Regions from separate parts of the Homo sapiens genome. Here region 2 is linked to region 1. The links come from fine-mapping of genetic effects on gene expression. Tissue or cell type: whole blood. Region 1 holds a variant in brackets; the other region holds the start of a gene. Each region is shown on its reference strand, or each on the opposite one. Region 1 has its middle 25 kb from the start of MBNL1. Region 2 holds the start of TMEM88 (transmembrane protein 88).

Region 1 (8,527 bases):
TAGAACGAGAATAAAAGCAACCTACTTAAAATTTTTTCTTGTGCAAAAGAAAATAGATTGAATTAAGGTACACTTTTAAAAATTTTACTTATTTTTTCAAAATCAAAACTGTGGTGATTTTTCTCAAAATCATATTGCAATTTATTTTTTCCCAAGGTGAGAAAAATTTTGAGAATGTGATAACCACTACATATTAAAAAAAAACTAAAGGCTCATGATGAAATATCTGTAAAGTAGAATAATAATGAGGTATGAAATTTTATACTGGTTCATGGAGCAACACCAATAGACTAACTTCATTCTTCATCTGCTTTCCAAGGTTGCAATATTAATGAATGATTCTAATGACATTTTTATTTAAATTTGGATTTAAATATGCAAATCTGGTATTTTCCCCCATAATATTAAAAGCAAAAAAATTAAATAAAAAGTTAAAACCTATATTTAGAAAATGTATATAAAGATAAAAATAAAACTGGAAGGAATTTTAAAAACATTAAATCTAAGTGCCTAATTTTAGTTAATAAAAAATGATAAAAAGCATCAATGATGTCAGACAAATAACAGAACTATACTAATTCTCAAATAACAAGTTATATTTTAAAGATTAAAAATTAATGAACAGTGGTTTTATTTTCTACAATGCAGATATGTAAATTAGATTCCATTTCATTTATTTTTTTAAATGGAAGTATTCAGAAATATAAAATGGCTTACCCTTATTCTTTATATCTGTAAAAGGTATTTTCTTTTCATGTATCATGAAAATGATACATATTTTATCATACAGAGCTCATGTACTGTCATAGCTCATATTTTTGCAATCATAATAATTTCTTATTTATTTAGCATATTTTAATTATATGTGAATATGCAAATATAGCAATCATTTGGAATTTACATTTATTAAAAATAAATAGAAAGTCAACAAACACAGGAGGGCACAAATTTTCTTTTAAATGGCTGAAAGACCCACATTATCTGGGATACAAAGATTTTTGTTTTTCAATAACAGGTCATGTCTCTGAGTTTGCACCCAAACTGTAATCTTTCTTTCAGGCAACAAACTTTCTTCTCTTTATTCTTGCAAATGGGAAAATGGCCAAAAGAAGAGGAAACAAAACAGCTAAACAAAAACTAAATCTTTCAATGTTCTTTTGGAAGTTCAGTAATTTATGTCAAAAACAAATAGCACTGTTATTCCTAAATGTAATTATTATTTGAAAAATAATATACGTTTATTTGTTGGAGTGGGATAGAGCCCTCTATAAGCAGATCATTCTTTTCTATTTCTATAGATGAGCAACTTTGGGAAGGTCATCTTGTGAAGGAGGAGGAGAACATCCATTTAACTGTGAGATTAGCAGCATCAACCCTGGACCCAATAGTTTAATAGACCCCCAAGAAGATCATCCACTTCACACAATCAAACTATGCCTTATTAAGACAGAGACCAAATTTTACAATACTATACACAGCAGTCATCCAGTCTCAATTTTTATTAGATTCAATGAAAACTTCTTAGACAATCATGTCACATAAACATAATCTACTAAAACACAGTAAAATATATACTACAGCTCAGAAGCCAAAATTAAATTTTCCAGTAATAAATTATTTATCATATTTATGATGAATAAACAATAATATTAAATAATTAATATTAAATATTTGTTAATATTTATTTACCATTAATATTATCATGGAAACTCAGATGAGCACTCATTTTTTTCTTATGTAAAGACAATTTTATCAAAGAGAGAACAACTTAAAAACTTATTTTCCATAATCTAGAACTAGGATGTTCATTCAGACTTTACTAATTATTGACAACAACAACAACAACAACAAATCTGTCTTGCCAGAAAGATAGTATCTTCTCTGCTGCTTTAGCCTTCATTTGCTGTTCTGAATTACACTTATGACCAATTTATATTGTAATCTCCTTGGGCTATGTTTCCTTGTGATTGTTAGCCATTATTTAGTATATTACCATACTACATATAACACTTAATAGCTCATGATATCAAAATATCTCATAGTTAAAATTGTGGACATTTGAACTTCTGATGGAAGTAGTTGTGTTTATTTTTAAGGTTTCTTTATTTTTATATTTTTAGAGACAGAATCTGGCTCTGTCACTTAGGCTGGAGTGTAGTGGTGCAATCACAGCTCACTGCAGCCTTGATCTTCTGACTTAAGCCATTCTCTTGCCTCAGCCTCCAAAGTAGCTGGGACTACAGGCTTGAGCCCCTAGACCTGACAAGCAGTTGTGTTTAATTAGTGTGTGATAAAGATGAAGAAGCACAATTGTAACGGATTTCTAACAACCATCAACTTAATTTTAAAATTTTCATCGAGTTAAGTATGTCAAATTTGATTCAACAATTCACATCTGAGTTTGTAACAGTAACACTCTGCTTTCCTTCTCCCTATAATAAGAAGACAGCAACTATTGGTGCAACTTATTGGTGTAGTGCATGAAAATACGTAAAACAAACCAACAAAAAACCAACTAGGTACTAGGTAACATACTAGAACCAGTAATAACAGCACCATTTACCAAAATTTATCAAAAATTAAATCTATTAATTGATGGGATAGTGTGGACTTTCTTTTTTGGAAGCCATGAGATTAGTCTAATTTTTTCAAACCAAATTAAGAAAGCTTCAAATACATCTTGGGATATTTATACTTACCAAATCTCACACGGTAAATGTGTGATGTATGAAACTTTCTCAAAAGGATTCAATTATGAAAATGCTCAGAGGCAAACTCTTCAAACCTCCATATGTATATATAGCCAGAGTAGTTCACTTAAACAGATTTTTCTTCTCAAAGCTGTATTAAACACTCCTTAATGTTTTTACCAAAGTATAAAGAAACCAACAGCTTTTAAAAGGAAGATTTAAAAATTGCTATATTATGAATACAATTGTATTAAATACAGTTAATATGTGTAGGTATTATTCTGGATTAGTGCAAATTTGAATAAAAGTTTCTAGGATCTAGATTATTTTAGAATTTCACTAATAAGATCAGTTTCAGTTTAGTTTGATTTCCAATTATCAAACCAAATGTCTTACTTTGTTTTCATTCTTACTATATTTTAAGCATTATAAATACAAATTAAACTTATTTAGAAAACAATACATTTTAAAAATTAGATTTGCATATTTCATTTAAAATTTTAAGTCATGCTGTCTACACTACAAATTAATTTTTCTAAACAAATATCATCATAAAGTGATGATATAAAAATAATACTGAAATGTCATATTTTAAATGATACAATATATTTTCACGGTGGGTAAAAACAAATGTAAGAATGCTTTTTTTTCTGGAAAGTGCTCAACTAATAATATGCAAAATGAACAAAAGTATATCTGTGAGAGAATATTAGAAATAATCTAGAGCTGGGAAAGAAGAAAAGTTATCAAATTTGTTAATAATCCAAATGCCTCTTCAGCACTAAATTGTGTGCAAAATTACAAATACACAAGAAAGATAACGTTTTATTTTGCAGGTAAAATAATTTGGAGATCAATGAAAACTTTAAATTTTTCCAGGTTTTTAAAAGCTTGTATGTGAAGCTGAAGCTTTGTAAATGTATTAAACTTTTTATTTAAAATGTCGGTTACTTACTTGAAAGAGTTATCAGGTTTATCTAATCTACACTGTAATGTGGCCAGCATTTAAATTGTTGCTATATAAATAGCAATCCAAATAATAAAATGAAAAATAGCAAATAATTGTTCTTACCTCTATGCTTAGTTATAGTTGCTTGTTAAGCTGCTTCATGGGTTGAGACAAACTACCAGCACTTCAAAGAGCTCAGTTCTCTGCTCAACTCTCTTCTCTAGTTACATTATTTTTTTTCCTCTGCAAAAGGATAGTCCACCAAAAGAGGAAGTTATGAAATAACAGTCATTATGCTTTATCCATTTTATGGGGCATGGAAAATTATTCATAAAGCTTACACTTGAAATCACAGCAACAGGCTATAATTGGTGCCTGTACACATATATAATTAAAGTATATGCATGTTTATATGTGTAAGCAAATTTTAGAAAAGTTAAGCTATTGAAACCTATAGTTGGCCTGGCACGGTGGCTGACGCCTGTAATCCCAGCACTTTGGGAGGCTGAAGCGGGCAGATTACCTGAGGTCAGGAGTTCAAGACCAGCCTGGCCAACATAGTGAAACTCCGTCTCTACTAAAAATACAAAAGTTAGCCTGGCATGGTGGCAGGCGTCTGAATCCCACTTACTCAGGAGACTGAGGCAGGAGAATCGCTTGAACTCAGGAGGCGGAGGTTGCAGTGAGCTGAGATCGCGGCCATTGCTTTCCAGGCTGGGAGACACAGTGAGACTCCATTTCAAAAAAGAAAAGAAAAGAAAAGAAACCTATACTTGATTAAGTAGTGCTCGTTTACATAAGGAAGCATCTCCTGTGTGGCTCAATGATCACAGAAAACATTGCTCTATGCAGAAGAAAACTGTCCAGCTGATATATGGGAATTAACTTGCTTTTACAAGTCTAATTAATTTAAAGTCTTTGAAGTATGACACAAATGCTAATCTGACTACAGGCATCTTATTAAAGGAAGAAAAAAAAAAAACCTCCAGTAAACAGACATTTTCCTGGAATTTGGGTAGCGGTTTTTTACCTACAAGTCTCAAACTTCCTTTCTCATGAATAGTTGCCTGTTACATATAGATAAAGCACTGCAAAACTGAAACTGTTACTTACACATGAACTATGGTCTTTCACTACTTCAGCCACAAGAGTAAAAAACAGGTGCAGAGGTGCAGATCCTGCAAAACTGAACATTTAGCTGGCTAAGTTTCTTACAGGTTGGAGTAGTAAATGAGAATATTTAAAGGACAGTAGGGACAATGGTTGAAAAAAGACATAAAAAAGTTGATCAAAGCAAGTACTACTGCCAAATTCAAATAAAAGGATATATACAAATATATTTATCATGGGTTTAGGTTGCCAGATAATAGAAGCCAATGTGTAGCTTCATTTTTTATGTGTGGCAGTTGCTCCCAA[A/C]CTCCCTTGCTCATTGGGGAAGAAGGAGATGGATTGCAAGAGCAATACAGTAATTATGCAAACCTCCACATGTTGCAAGAACCACTTTCTGGACTTTAGAAGCTATCATGCTGTCACTGCACCACACTCTTTGCTTTTTATTTAACCTTATGTCCAAAGAGGCATTAAAGAGTACTTAGACTGGGCACAGTGGCTCACGCCTGTAATCCCAGCACTTTGGGAGGCCGAGGTGGGTGGATCACTTGAGGTCAGGAGTTCGAGATCAGCCTGGCCAACATGGTGAAACCCCATCTCTACTAAAAAAAATACAAAAATTAGCCAGGCACTTTGGCAGGCCCCTGTAATCCCAGCTACTCAGGAGGCTGAGGCAGGAGAATCCCTTGAACCTGAGAGGCAGAGTTTGCAGTGAGCCGGGATCCTGCCACTGCACTCCAGCCTCGGCCATAGGGTGAGACTCCGTCTCAAAAACAAACAAACAGAGTAATTAGGAGATGATTAGAAGCTGAAATATTTTCCATTTCACCTAAACTCATACTTAATGTGAGTTTGCAGGAAGTTAAATAAACCAAATGCAGAAAGCTGTCCCCTCCATAAAACGCACAAAAAACAAAAACAAATAAACGAACAAAACCCCAGTATGTCATTGATATCAAATTTTATTTGAATTCCTTTGTGAACTACTTATAAGGAAATCCCTACAGAGAAGTTGTCAATGTGATTAAAATTGCTTAGATTCTATGTGTTTAGACAAATTTTAAATATTATTGTATTTGGGTATCATTATATAAAACACTAGGCTTATCAGTCCCCAAAGACCCAGTCACACTCTGGAAGCATAGTCCTCAATGTCTGCTGTAATTTTAATGTATTTCCTCAATATTTGTGTACCTTTTGCCTGAATAGTGGATGTATATCTCTACTTCTCTTCTTCTCTAATGATCCCTTCCAGGCTGATAAATATGCTCAAGTTTCTTCCCTATTAAAAATTCCTCCTCTGACTGACTTGTCATATTACTTTCTTTTTCTTCATCAGAACTTTTTGAGAAAGTTGCCCACATTGACTTGAGCCCTTATATCTTTTTTGTATGTGTGTATGGTAGAATATATTTAACAAAATTTACCATTTGAACCATTTTTAAATGTACAGTTCAGAGGCATTAAGTACATTCACACTGTTAGGCAACCATCACCACCATCTATCTCCAGAACTTTCTCATTCTTCTAGACTGAAACTCTGTACCTATTAAACAATAACTGAACGTTCCTTCCTGCCCTCAACCTGGCAACCACCATTCTACTTTCTATCTCTATGAATGTGATTACTCTAGGTACTTCATATGAATGGAACCATATGACATTTGTCCATTTGTGTCTGGCTTATTTCACTTAGGTTCATCAAAGTTGCAGCATGTGTCAGAATTTCCTTCCTTCTTAAAGCTGAATAATATTCTATTGTATGTATATACCACATTTGTTTCCTATTTATCAGATGATGGACACTTGAGTTGTTGCTATCTTTGGCTATTGAGAATAATGCTGCTATAAACATGGGTGTGCAAATATCTGTTTGAATCTTTGCTTTCATTTTTTTTGTATATACACCCAGAAGTGGAATTGAATCATACTGTAATTTTATACTTTTTGAGGACCCACCATACTAAGTCCACCTATCTTTCTCACATTTCTTCCTCCTGCATGGGTTTCTGCTTCCTCCTATTTATCAAGACTCTTGCCAAAATCACCAGTGATCTCCCTGTTACCAAATCCAAAATCCAAAAGCCCTCTTACTTGACCTGTTTTCAGCACATGCCAATGTTGACCACTTCCTCCTCCAGGAAATGTTATCTGTCTTTCAGCTCTTGACTTCACTCTCACCTTCTGATTATGTGGCAACTTCTCTGATTTATTTATGAGTCTTTAAACTCTGCTCCTCTAGTAAATGTTGCCACTTCTCAGGATTCTGTCCTGGGCTTGCTCTCCTTACCCGACAATCTCACTATCCTTGCATGGTTTTAACTGGCAAATACTGATTGCTCCCAAATCTCTGTTTCCAACCCAGTTATCTCCCTAGAAAAGTTTTCACCAATGCAAAATATAAAATCATTTCTACTTGCAATGTACAGAAAAGAGTCTGCATAGAGGCCCTAAGATAAGCCTCAATTAATTTTTCAATTCTACTATTGTTTAAACTTCAGCAGGTCAGGCAACATTTTTGAGCCCTATTTCCTCACCTGTAAATGGGGCCTTAAATGACCACCTAATACGGTTACTGGAAGTATAAAACAAAGACTACTTAAACACTTTCTTATGTTTATAGTATTAAAAATACAGTTAAAGCAAAAGTCCATTTTAATTCCCTCTAACATGATTCTTCTCCCTAGAAATAAGTAATACTATCAGTTTGATGTGTATACTTGCTTAACTATTTCCTGTATAATTACCTGTAAGACACATAAGGAGTTAAATAATTTTGTGGGGTTTTAATGTAAATAACATCACACTGTATGTTCTTCACTGGGACTTTTAAAAAGCTTAATATGGCTTGAAGGTATCCCAAGACATACTTTTGAACTGATTCATATATATCTAATTCCCTCACTGATTGAATTTGTGTTACTCTTCACAGCTAAAAATAATGTGATCAGTTGAGCATTTTAAATATCTCTCTAAAAGTAGTACAAGTCTTTATGTGAGGTAGATACAGGAAAGTAGAATTGTTAGGTCAGAAGGCATATACATTTAAAATGTTAATTGTCACTGCCAAATGGCCCAGTCAAAAAAGGTTTAATCTCCAACATTTCCTGTTTTTTTATGCGATTGCCAGTATTTGCTTTAATTAAACTTTTAAAGATTTGCCAATCTGATGGACAAGAAAATGGAGTCTTAATATTTTTATTTTGCTTTTCCCTGATTACTGTGGATATTGAACACATATTAATGTTGTATCCTCCTTTACAATTCCAGTTTTGTGAACTACCTGTTAATTCATTCCAAACTTTTCTTTTTATTTTATCTCATTATTATTTTTTTTACCTGATCACCTACTACCAGGACCAAACATTTCTTTATTGCATAATTGTCAGCTTTTTATTGATATGTAGGATTATAAGTACATTCTGTTTGAATGCATTGCAATAATTTTTCTTTTTTGGTGATGGTCCATTCTCCCCATCCTCCATTTTAGGGCTTTTCATGCTGGCTATGGTAACCTCTTGAGATGACCCTAATATTCTCTGATAATGTCTTTGATTTCTGGCACAAGATAGCCAGGTTCATTTTGTGTATTTCTTGCCCCAGAACTGAAATCACCCATTTCTCTAAAGAACCTTCGTTGCTTTTGGTAGACAGGGATTTTTGAGATCACCATCTAAACCTTAGTAGTGCTTATTGCTATTGAGTTATTACTAGCATTTGGAATAAACTCAGTCAACACATTGTTAGTTTCTTCTATGTGCCAAGCAGTACATAATTG
Region 2 (8,109 bases), not on the chromosome of region 1:
GGCCCCGGGAAAAAAAAGCTGAAACTCCAGCATGCAATGAGCAGACCCTAAAGTCCTACAGATCTTAATGGCAGCCACTTCTAACTACCGGATGGCCATAAAGGGTCAACTGTCCCCTCACTATATCCATGCAACAGAGTAGATTAAAAAGAAAGTCCAATTGCTGTCCAAAACGGCGTGTAAGAGCTTCGAAGGACCACCATCACTAAGATACATGAACTGCTGTTCCCAGGCTTATAAAGGAGTCTCTTGTCCCCCTGTGACCCAGACACTCCTAGAATTCCCAACCCTGGGGACCTAGGTGCTGTGCTTTCCTCAGTTGCCTCAATGTAAAGGACAGAAAATACACTCCCACCGGTTATGGAAAAAATGTTGCCCTGAAGATCGGCCTGGAGATTTGCTGGGATTCCCCATTCCTTCTAACCTGCTCCTTGTCACCAGTTCTCACCTCCAGTGTGTGCTCCTGCGACGTGAGCGTGTTAATGATGCGGATGCTCCGGGTCTTGGCAGACAGCCGCCCCACCTCATAATACGACCCCTGCCACCAGGGCTTCCCAAAATCGTTGGCCCAGTCCGAACAGGGCAGCTGAGGCGGAACGTGCACAAAGCGGCCCCGCGGGGTGCAGTACCTCAGGCAGCCGGTCAGCGGATCTATGTGCTTGCGGATCTTTAAAGGAGGGTTTGGGGCGAGGGTGTCAGAGCAGCCATTAGGCTCTGGCTAGCCTCCGCCTTTCCTTCCCATCCCCGCTCTCCATTTCCTCTACCCACAATCCCAGGTTCCAGCATAACTCACGTCTCTGGTCTTTGGATCAAACCAGTGGCTGATATCCTGGCCTGCAACTTCCACGATGGGTTTCAGCAGCAGGTTCCCTTGAAAAGAGCAGCACAGCCACTGTCAATGCCAGCCCTTCGAGAACCAGGCAAACGCGCGCGTGCACACACACACACTCCGGCCCCGGCCCAACGTGTGGCCCTTACCCTTGTATTCCTGTGCCAATGACGTTAGGTCGTACACGCGTCCCAGGTAAGATACCCAGAGGTCTTCGGGCCTGTTATGTTGGGCCACCTCCGCCGGCGTGAAATAGCGACGCTGAAAATACTCCAAGTCTGGCCCAGCCACCAGGCCCCGGCGCGGCATGGCTCTTGCTCTGTCGGTCACTGGATCTCTTGGTTACTCCTTTGCTCCTCAGCACGTACTCACTACTACTACGACCTCCGTCGCGTCCGGGAGCCGAGGGGAGAGCGTTTATCCGCTGACATGGAAACCATTGTCCTTTTCCGGCCACCGTCCACTGAGATAAATATCAGGGGCGGGGTTTGGACTGCACGTGTTCACGGGAAACGTAGTATGAGTCCCGCGTGGGGCATATAAGGATCAAGTAATTGAGTTGCGCCGCTTTCAGGAGTTGCGGGGTGGGGCAGAGAACGAATACGCTCCGTTTTAATTCAGTGGCCTGGGCTACATGGGATATTTAGGACAGACTATCTCTCTGAGACAGAAAAACAAGGGAGGAGGCAGTATGAAAGAATGTATTCTCGCTAAATTCCAGTTTCTAAAGGATGTGTAAGAAACCAGAGGTAAAGGTCTCGCGATATCTTAAGACATCCGGCGTAGTACGCTTCAGTGAGCCACAGCGCTAGAGAAGTAGGAGAAGCTCGCGAGATCTGTGCCGTTGCCGAGGAGACTAGGAGGGGGAGGAGAGGGGATCTCGCGAAAGGAAAGAGGTCGGGAGCGCTCGCGAGATCTCGGACCACCCAACCTGAAAGGTGCTTAGGAAGTTGAAAGGCCCAGAGGAGGCCTCCGGGCAAATGGCCGGAGCTGGACCGACCATGCTGCTACGAGAAGAGAATGGCTGTTGCAGTCGGCGTCAGAGCAGCTCCAGTGCTGGGGTTAGCACGGGCTCTGGTTCTGGGACTGAGGGGCAGTCAAGCAGCAAGATGGAGGGGGTGGGGAACTGCAGCTCCCGGCAGCCTCTGGGCTTTGTGTGAGTGCCCCGCGGGCTGCCGGGAGCTGTGGTTCCGCGGGCGGGCAGCCTGGGCTGCGCGGTCTGAGCGCTTGTTACACCCCGCGCAGGATTCGGACGGAGAGCGCGAGGACTCGGCGGCTGAGCGCGCCCGACAGCAGCTAGAGGCGCTGCTCAACAAGACTATGCGCATTCGCATGACAGATGGACGGACACTGGTCGGCTGCTTCCTCTGCACTGACCGTGACTGCAATGTCATCCTGGGCTCGGCGCAGGAGTTCCTCAAGCCGTCGGGTCAGTGCCCGGGGAATGCACACCCGCCTGGTAATGTGGCGGAACCTTACGCAAGGCATTTCCCCTTAAGGGCCTGGCTGCAACCCTTGTTTTCTGGGGCTCGTTTTCGTGGCTCAGAGGGGCGGGACTGATTCTGGCCTACTTTCCTGATGCTCTGATCCTTCTTTCCAGATTCCTTCTCTGCCGGGGAGCCCCGTGTGCTGGGCCTGGCCATGGTACCCGGACACCACATCGTTTCCATTGAGGTGCAGAGGGAGAGTCTGACCGGGCCTCCGTATCTCTGACCACGATGGCGCTTACCTTTCAGACTTCATTAAACTTATGACCGAATGGGCCTGTGTCTGTGTGTAGCTGGGATGCCGGTGCAGGATAGCACACCCCATCCCTAGAGGAAAGGGCTCATCTGAAGTCGGGAGCACCCTCAACCCTCCTCTCCCAACCAAGATGTCCAGGGGTGCCAAAGGTTCTCTCAAGTTCAGGGGTAGAGATGGGGGGCAGGGCTGAATGACGGACCAACAGGCCCCAGGGTGGGCCCCTGCATCTTCCCTCCCACGGCTGCTGCTCCAGAATTGTGGCGGGAGGGGGTGTCATCCTGCTCCGGAAGGCCCATTGTTTCCCACCCCGGCCTGGCAACACCGAGTTCCTCTAAGCTGGGGTCAGAGAACGGGCTCAGGTCCCCAAGGGGAGCAGCGGCAGGCGGCCGAGGCTGGGCCCCTCCACTCTATTGAGGGGGAGGTGCCTGGGGTCAGGAACAGATCTCTGAGGTCTGGCCAGGAAGAACGGACAAAAGCGATAAGGCCAGGGGGCTCAAGGATGCTCCTCTCTGCTCATTTGTAGCCCTGGCACATGTTTCCTGTTCCTCGGCACAGGGCAGGGGTGATAGTACTTGTGCCACGCCTCTGTTCGCAGAGCGCGTTCAGTTCGTTAAATCTTTATTGATGCGTGGACACTCCTTCCCCTCCAGCCCCGCCCCCCAGCCCCAGAAATACTAGAGAAGCTGCACCATAAAACGAGGGCACGAGATTGTTGTCCCATTCACGACGGAGCTGAGGGGGAGGTGTGCAGGTTCCAGCCTAGATGTTCAGGATTGAGATGTGGGTCGTGAAAGGAAAGTGGGTTTTCCGGGATGTGGGGGCTTTTCTCAGCACTGGGTCCACTGACGCTGCTGCTCCCAAGGGGATGCTAGGACTCCGCTCAGGCAGGGGTGGGGGCAGGGCAGGTCGGAAGATGCCGGGCTTCAAGTCCTTGGGCCGAATAAGAGGGAGGGCAGCCGTCAGGGTTGTTCTTGACTCGAGGGTCATTAGACCCAGACCTTTCCTGATGTGGGAACGGCCTGGGACCCTGGTGAGGCCCGGATTTGCCGCGGCTGCGGGGCGCGCCGACGCCGATAAAGGGCTCGGCTGTAGGGCACGAGGCAATCGGCTAGGCGGAGGCGCAGGCAGAGGCGGCGGTAGCTGGCCAGAGCAAGCACGAGCAGCGGCACGAGGAGCAGGAATCCGGTGACCAGTAGGGCCGTGAAACCGGGGTCCCGCAGGTGCGCGGTGCAAGGGGGTGCCTGGGAGCGCAGGAACTGTGGGAGAAGAGGCGTCAGGCCCAAGCCGACCAGGCGATACTGTGCACGGGGTGGAAACAGCCCAGGCGGGTTGAAGTTGTGGCCCATAGACCCCACCGCCAGCATCACCACACACCAACACTCACACTCACACGCACACCCCGGGGCGCACGCTCACCTGAGAGTGGCAGAGGAAGCCGAAGCCCAGCATGGTGACAGCGGGTAGCAAGATGGTCCCTAGCACCAGCACCAGCAGGAGAAGATTGAAGGCAGCCACCAGCAGATTCTGGGCTGTTACAAGAACAGCGCAGGCCCAACAGTCCAGGGGGTCCCGGGGCTCTGGGCCGTCACCAGGAACCGCTCGCTGTGCCCCGGGGACATCCGCCATGGCCCGCCTGGATCCCGCCCGCCTGGGCCGCTGCCCTTATAGCCCTCTTTCCTGCCCCTCCCCCGGCCCAGCCTCTCCCCACCCCCCTTATCCTGGAATGCGGCTCTAGGATTAGGCACCCCCCATCCCGAGGAGCGGACCAGAGCCCTGGACATTCCACAGGCGCCTCCGGGGAGGGGCTCACCCTCGCCAGGGTCTGCGCAGTCCTCCCCATCAATCACGGTCTTGCAGCCCTCCCGGTACTCAACCTGCTACCACCAGCCGTTAGCGAAACAGGATTTTTTTTCTCCGTTTATTTTTAATATTAATATTCTCACACAAAAATCACCGAAAATAGGGGTAGGGTTGGGAAGACCCCTCTGCCCCTGGGGCAGAGAGACAGTGCAGTGCGAGGGTGCGGGACTGTAAACCCCCCACCCCTCCGCAGCCCCAGCGTGGAGAAAAAACAACCAACAAAACGAAAATAAAGCCCCAGAGAAACTCACCCCGGGGTGTCCCTGCCCCAGTGAGGCCCTGGCCCTGGGTTGTTTCACACTTAAAAAGAAAAGGGGGTGGGGGTGAAGGTCTGTGTTTTTTAAAGTTGGCCGGGGCTGGGAAGGACGGGGTTCCTTTTCCTCATAGTTCTTTCTTTAAAACCTTTAATTTTTTTATTTTATTTATTTTTTTTACAAAATACCATTTCAGTTCCCACTTCTTCCCCTACAGTACAGGAGTTGCTCACCCTCAGGTGGGGCTGGGGTCGGGTCGGGAGTGGGGGGACTGGTCCGAGAAAGTGCAGGACGTAGGGGAGGGGAGCGGGTTTGAGCACCATGAGAACCCGGCTGGAGCCGCGGGCGGACGGGTGGAGACGGTCGGGCCGGGCCCGGACACACACTGGGGCGCGGGGAGAGCCCGGCGACGGGCGGTCCCTGGAGGGGCGGGCAGGATGGCTTGGGGGTGTGGGAGGTCGGGTTTTCCCAAAAATGAATAAATAGAGGTGAGTGGGACTGTTATAAATTAAAAACAAAAAAACAAGAAAAGAACAAAAAATACAAATCATAACCAAGTGAATAAAGAGACATGTACAGGGGTCACAGCTAGCATTGGAAGTAAAAAAGGAGGTTCCGGGGGAGGGGTAAAGCCCATAGAAAGAATCTCATTAAAAACCTCGGCTGCCGTAACGTCTATGTACATACACGAGCCGCGTGCATCTGCGCCGGGCGGGCGGGCGGCTGGCAGGGTGAGGGAACCCGTATGTGACCCCCGCCGCCGCCGGAGCCTGGTCCTTGTGTCTGTTGCTAAAAAGGCCAAAGTCGGTGAGGGGAGGCGCTGGTGGGCGAGGGGCTGCCAGCCCCCTCCCCCGTCTCCCATTTTTTTTCCTTTTTTCCTCATATTTGCTAAAAAAAAAAAAAAAGTTTTTCTTAATAAATTAAGTGAGGGGAGCTGCCAATGGGGTGGAAGGGCTGGGCCCGACCCCCTTCTCGGCCACAGGCGGGACCTAGGTCCAGCCCAGGCATGTGCTGGTGGCCCCGCGGCGCCTTGCGCGGGCAGGCAGGCGGGCGGGGCGTCCGGCCTCATCGCGACGTGCTGGCTGGGGCCTGGGGGGAGAAAGCCGGCGGGGGCTCAGGGAAAGGCGCGGCCGGGCTCCCGAAGCCCGTCCCTGCAGCCTGCCCCAGTGCCCTCCTCCGCTGCCCGCGCGCCCGCCGGGCCCTCACCAGCGTGAAGGCGTCGTAGGCCTGAGCCAGCTCCTCAGTGCGGTACTGCTCCAGCACCACCACGCCCTGCAGGCCTGCGCTGCGGCGCCGGGCACAGCCCTCGCAGTGTACCAGGTACGTGTTGCGGCTGCCATTCTCACTTGTCACGAACAGGATGTTAAACACCTCCACCTGGGGCAGGGAGGACAGTGCAGTCAGGGGGAGGGAGGGCCACTGTGGACACTCAGGGAGAGCAGCAGAGCCGGCCCACTCACATCGCACTCGTTGCAGTAGTAGGCTGGCTCGTCCTTGACACGGCCCTGGTAAGCGATTTTCTTCCCTGCCCGCACCAGGCTCTCGCGTTGCACCTGGCAGTGCTTCATGGACTGCAGCAGGCAGAACCTGGGGAGCAGTGGGGTTGTGTTGAGACCACCGGCAAGGAGGAGGCCTGAGGCAGGGCTGGAGCAAGGGCAGAGGGGTGGGCAGCCCCAGGGCCCTCCCCTAGGGGCCTCCCCGCTTCATGTCTAGGTCACATCCTCTGTCCTGGGCATCTGTTATAGGCGAAGTTTCCTGTGGCTTTTGTCTATTTGGACCACTAGAAAAGGTCATGACAGCAAGGACCTAGTTAGCCTCCCCAACACAGTAACACTCGGGGCACAGGCAGACAAGGATGGAGAGAGGTAAAAATGGGGTGGAGTCAGACAGGAAGAACAAGAAAAGGGACCAGTCAGTGGAGGTGGGCTCCCACCCAAATAGGGTCCTCACTTGATCATCTTGAACAAGTCGGGGTCGCTGATTTTGACCGTGCGAGCCACGTTCCATGACACGTGAATCATGGGCACGATGGATTTGACGTTCTTCACCTCATTCCACTCGTATCGTTCCAGGGCCAGCTGGTACTGATAGGCTGCGGGCCAAAGGCGATCACAACAGGACTCTCAAACAGCCCCCAGACACCTAGGCCCAAGCCCCTTCCCTCACTGCTGGCGGCTCTCCAAGCCCCAGCCTCCCAGGCCCTTGCCGCTGAGGCGCCACACCACGCCAACACCTGCCCCACCCTCTCACCGGTGAGGGGCCCCACGTTCCAGGCAATGTTGTTGCACCAGCCGGTGGCCTGCACCCAGTGCACAGTCCCCGCATTAATCCACACGAGGTCTCCGGGTCGCTGCACGAAGCGGTACACAGGAATATTGGATGCATAGAGATCATCCAGGATTGGCCACCAGGAACCCGTCAAGTAGTCCACGCCGTGCCTGCGGGGTGGCCACAGGTCAGGTGGGAACTGGGGACCGAGGGCGGGGACGCGGCAGTCTGACTTGCGCAGGACGGCACGCACCGATCACAGAAAGCGCTGATGGTCTCCCAGTAGTGCTCGTGCACCGCGAACCACTCGCAGTCGCCTGGGCCAATGTTGATGTTGACGGAGCAGAAGTTGTTATTCTCCTGGTGGCCTGCAGGGGTCGACAGAGAACGGCATGGCTGGCCAGGTCGGAACTGCGATCCCCGATAGCCCCGCCCTCTGCCCTCATTGGCTGACGGCTGAGCGCCGCCGCCAGCCCCTCCTCTCGCGCTTCCAGCATCAGCGCGCACAGGCGTGGAGCGCACCTGGCGTTCGGCTGCCGGGCACCTTCATGTACAGCTGCACCGTGTTCATGCCCAGGATGGTGTGGCCCACGTGGCTCAGCATGTTGCCCGTGGATGTTACCCGCATGAAGGCGGGCAGCTTCAGCAGCTCCTGCAGCTGGGGCTTCCACCTGCGGTGCGGAAGTGCGACGAGAGGCTACACCCCGCCCCCGCCACGAGGTCCTAGCAGCACTCCTGCCCCAACTTCCCTGGCCTCAGCCCCACTGACCGCTTAGCATCAGACAAGTCGATGTTGGTGCCAAACTTGATGATGTGATGGTTCTTCGGGTCTGGTGCGCTGCTGCTGGGGCGAAGAGCACAGGTTGGTGGAGAGCAGAGGGAGGGGAAGGAAGCAGGAACAGAAGGGGCACACCTGCACAGTACCTAGGAGGGGTTCCAGTGGTGCTGTCTGGCTCCTCTGACTCCTCATCCTCACTCTCCTTCTCCTCCTGTTCAGCCAGAGGGTAGGCAGGCCTGGGTCAGAGACCTTTCGAGAGCCCTCCCACCGCAGCCCCGTCCCAGGACCTGCCTCTGGCCACGTTCTCATCTCACCTGCAGAGACTCCTGGAAGGATGAGGCCTGGTACTGTGCGTACTTGGCAATGGTGGTGTGGGA

Evidence for each region. PIP is the estimated chance that this variant, and not a neighbour inherited with it, causes the effect. A credible set is the group of variants that fine-mapping cannot tell apart.
Region 2: it holds the start of TMEM88, and the variant in region 1 is the best candidate, but not a certain one, in a credible set for the expression of TMEM88 in whole blood (TOPMed, PIP 0.73).

The regions. Positions count from the first base shown.
Region 1 is chr3:152,239,676-152,248,202 of GRCh38, reverse strand. It overlaps a transcript of MBNL1 not described here. Among named protein-coding and RNA genes, the nearest start is that of MBNL1, 25 kb to the left of the region's middle. RefSeq lists enhancers at 4,378-4,507, 4,638-4,697. The variant A/C (reference allele first, on the strand shown) is at 5,056.
Region 2 is chr17:7,851,164-7,859,272 of GRCh38, reverse strand. It overlaps TMEM88 (transmembrane protein 88), which reads right to left and starts at 4,207. Exons shown (of 2, transcript NM_203411.2): 1 at 3,989-4,207; 2 at 3,174-3,828. The coding sequence starts at 4,198. The coding sequence ends at 3,559. KDM6B (lysine demethylase 6B) reads right to left here. Exons shown (of 24, transcript NM_001348716.2): 15 at 8,047-8,109; 16 at 7,879-7,943; 17 at 7,724-7,795; 18 at 7,477-7,625; 19 at 7,208-7,322; 20 at 6,937-7,124; 21 at 6,637-6,778; 22 at 6,147-6,273; 23 at 5,893-6,063; 24 at 4,477-5,775. The coding sequence ends at 5,752. NAA38 (N-alpha-acetyltransferase 38, NatC auxiliary subunit) reads left to right here and starts at 1,714. Exons shown (of 3, transcript NM_001320925.4): 1 at 1,714-1,890; 2 at 2,075-2,258; 3 at 2,430-2,588. The coding sequence starts at 1,810. The coding sequence ends at 2,542. It overlaps CYB5D1 (cytochrome b5 domain containing 1), which reads right to left and starts at 1,270. Exons shown (of 4, transcript NM_144607.6): 1 at 979-1,270; 2 at 794-870; 3 at 449-667. The coding sequence starts at 1,138. It also overlaps LOC107987244. RefSeq lists enhancers at 293-1,154, 960-1,179, 1,508-1,802, 1,530-1,899, 1,155-2,017 and 8 more.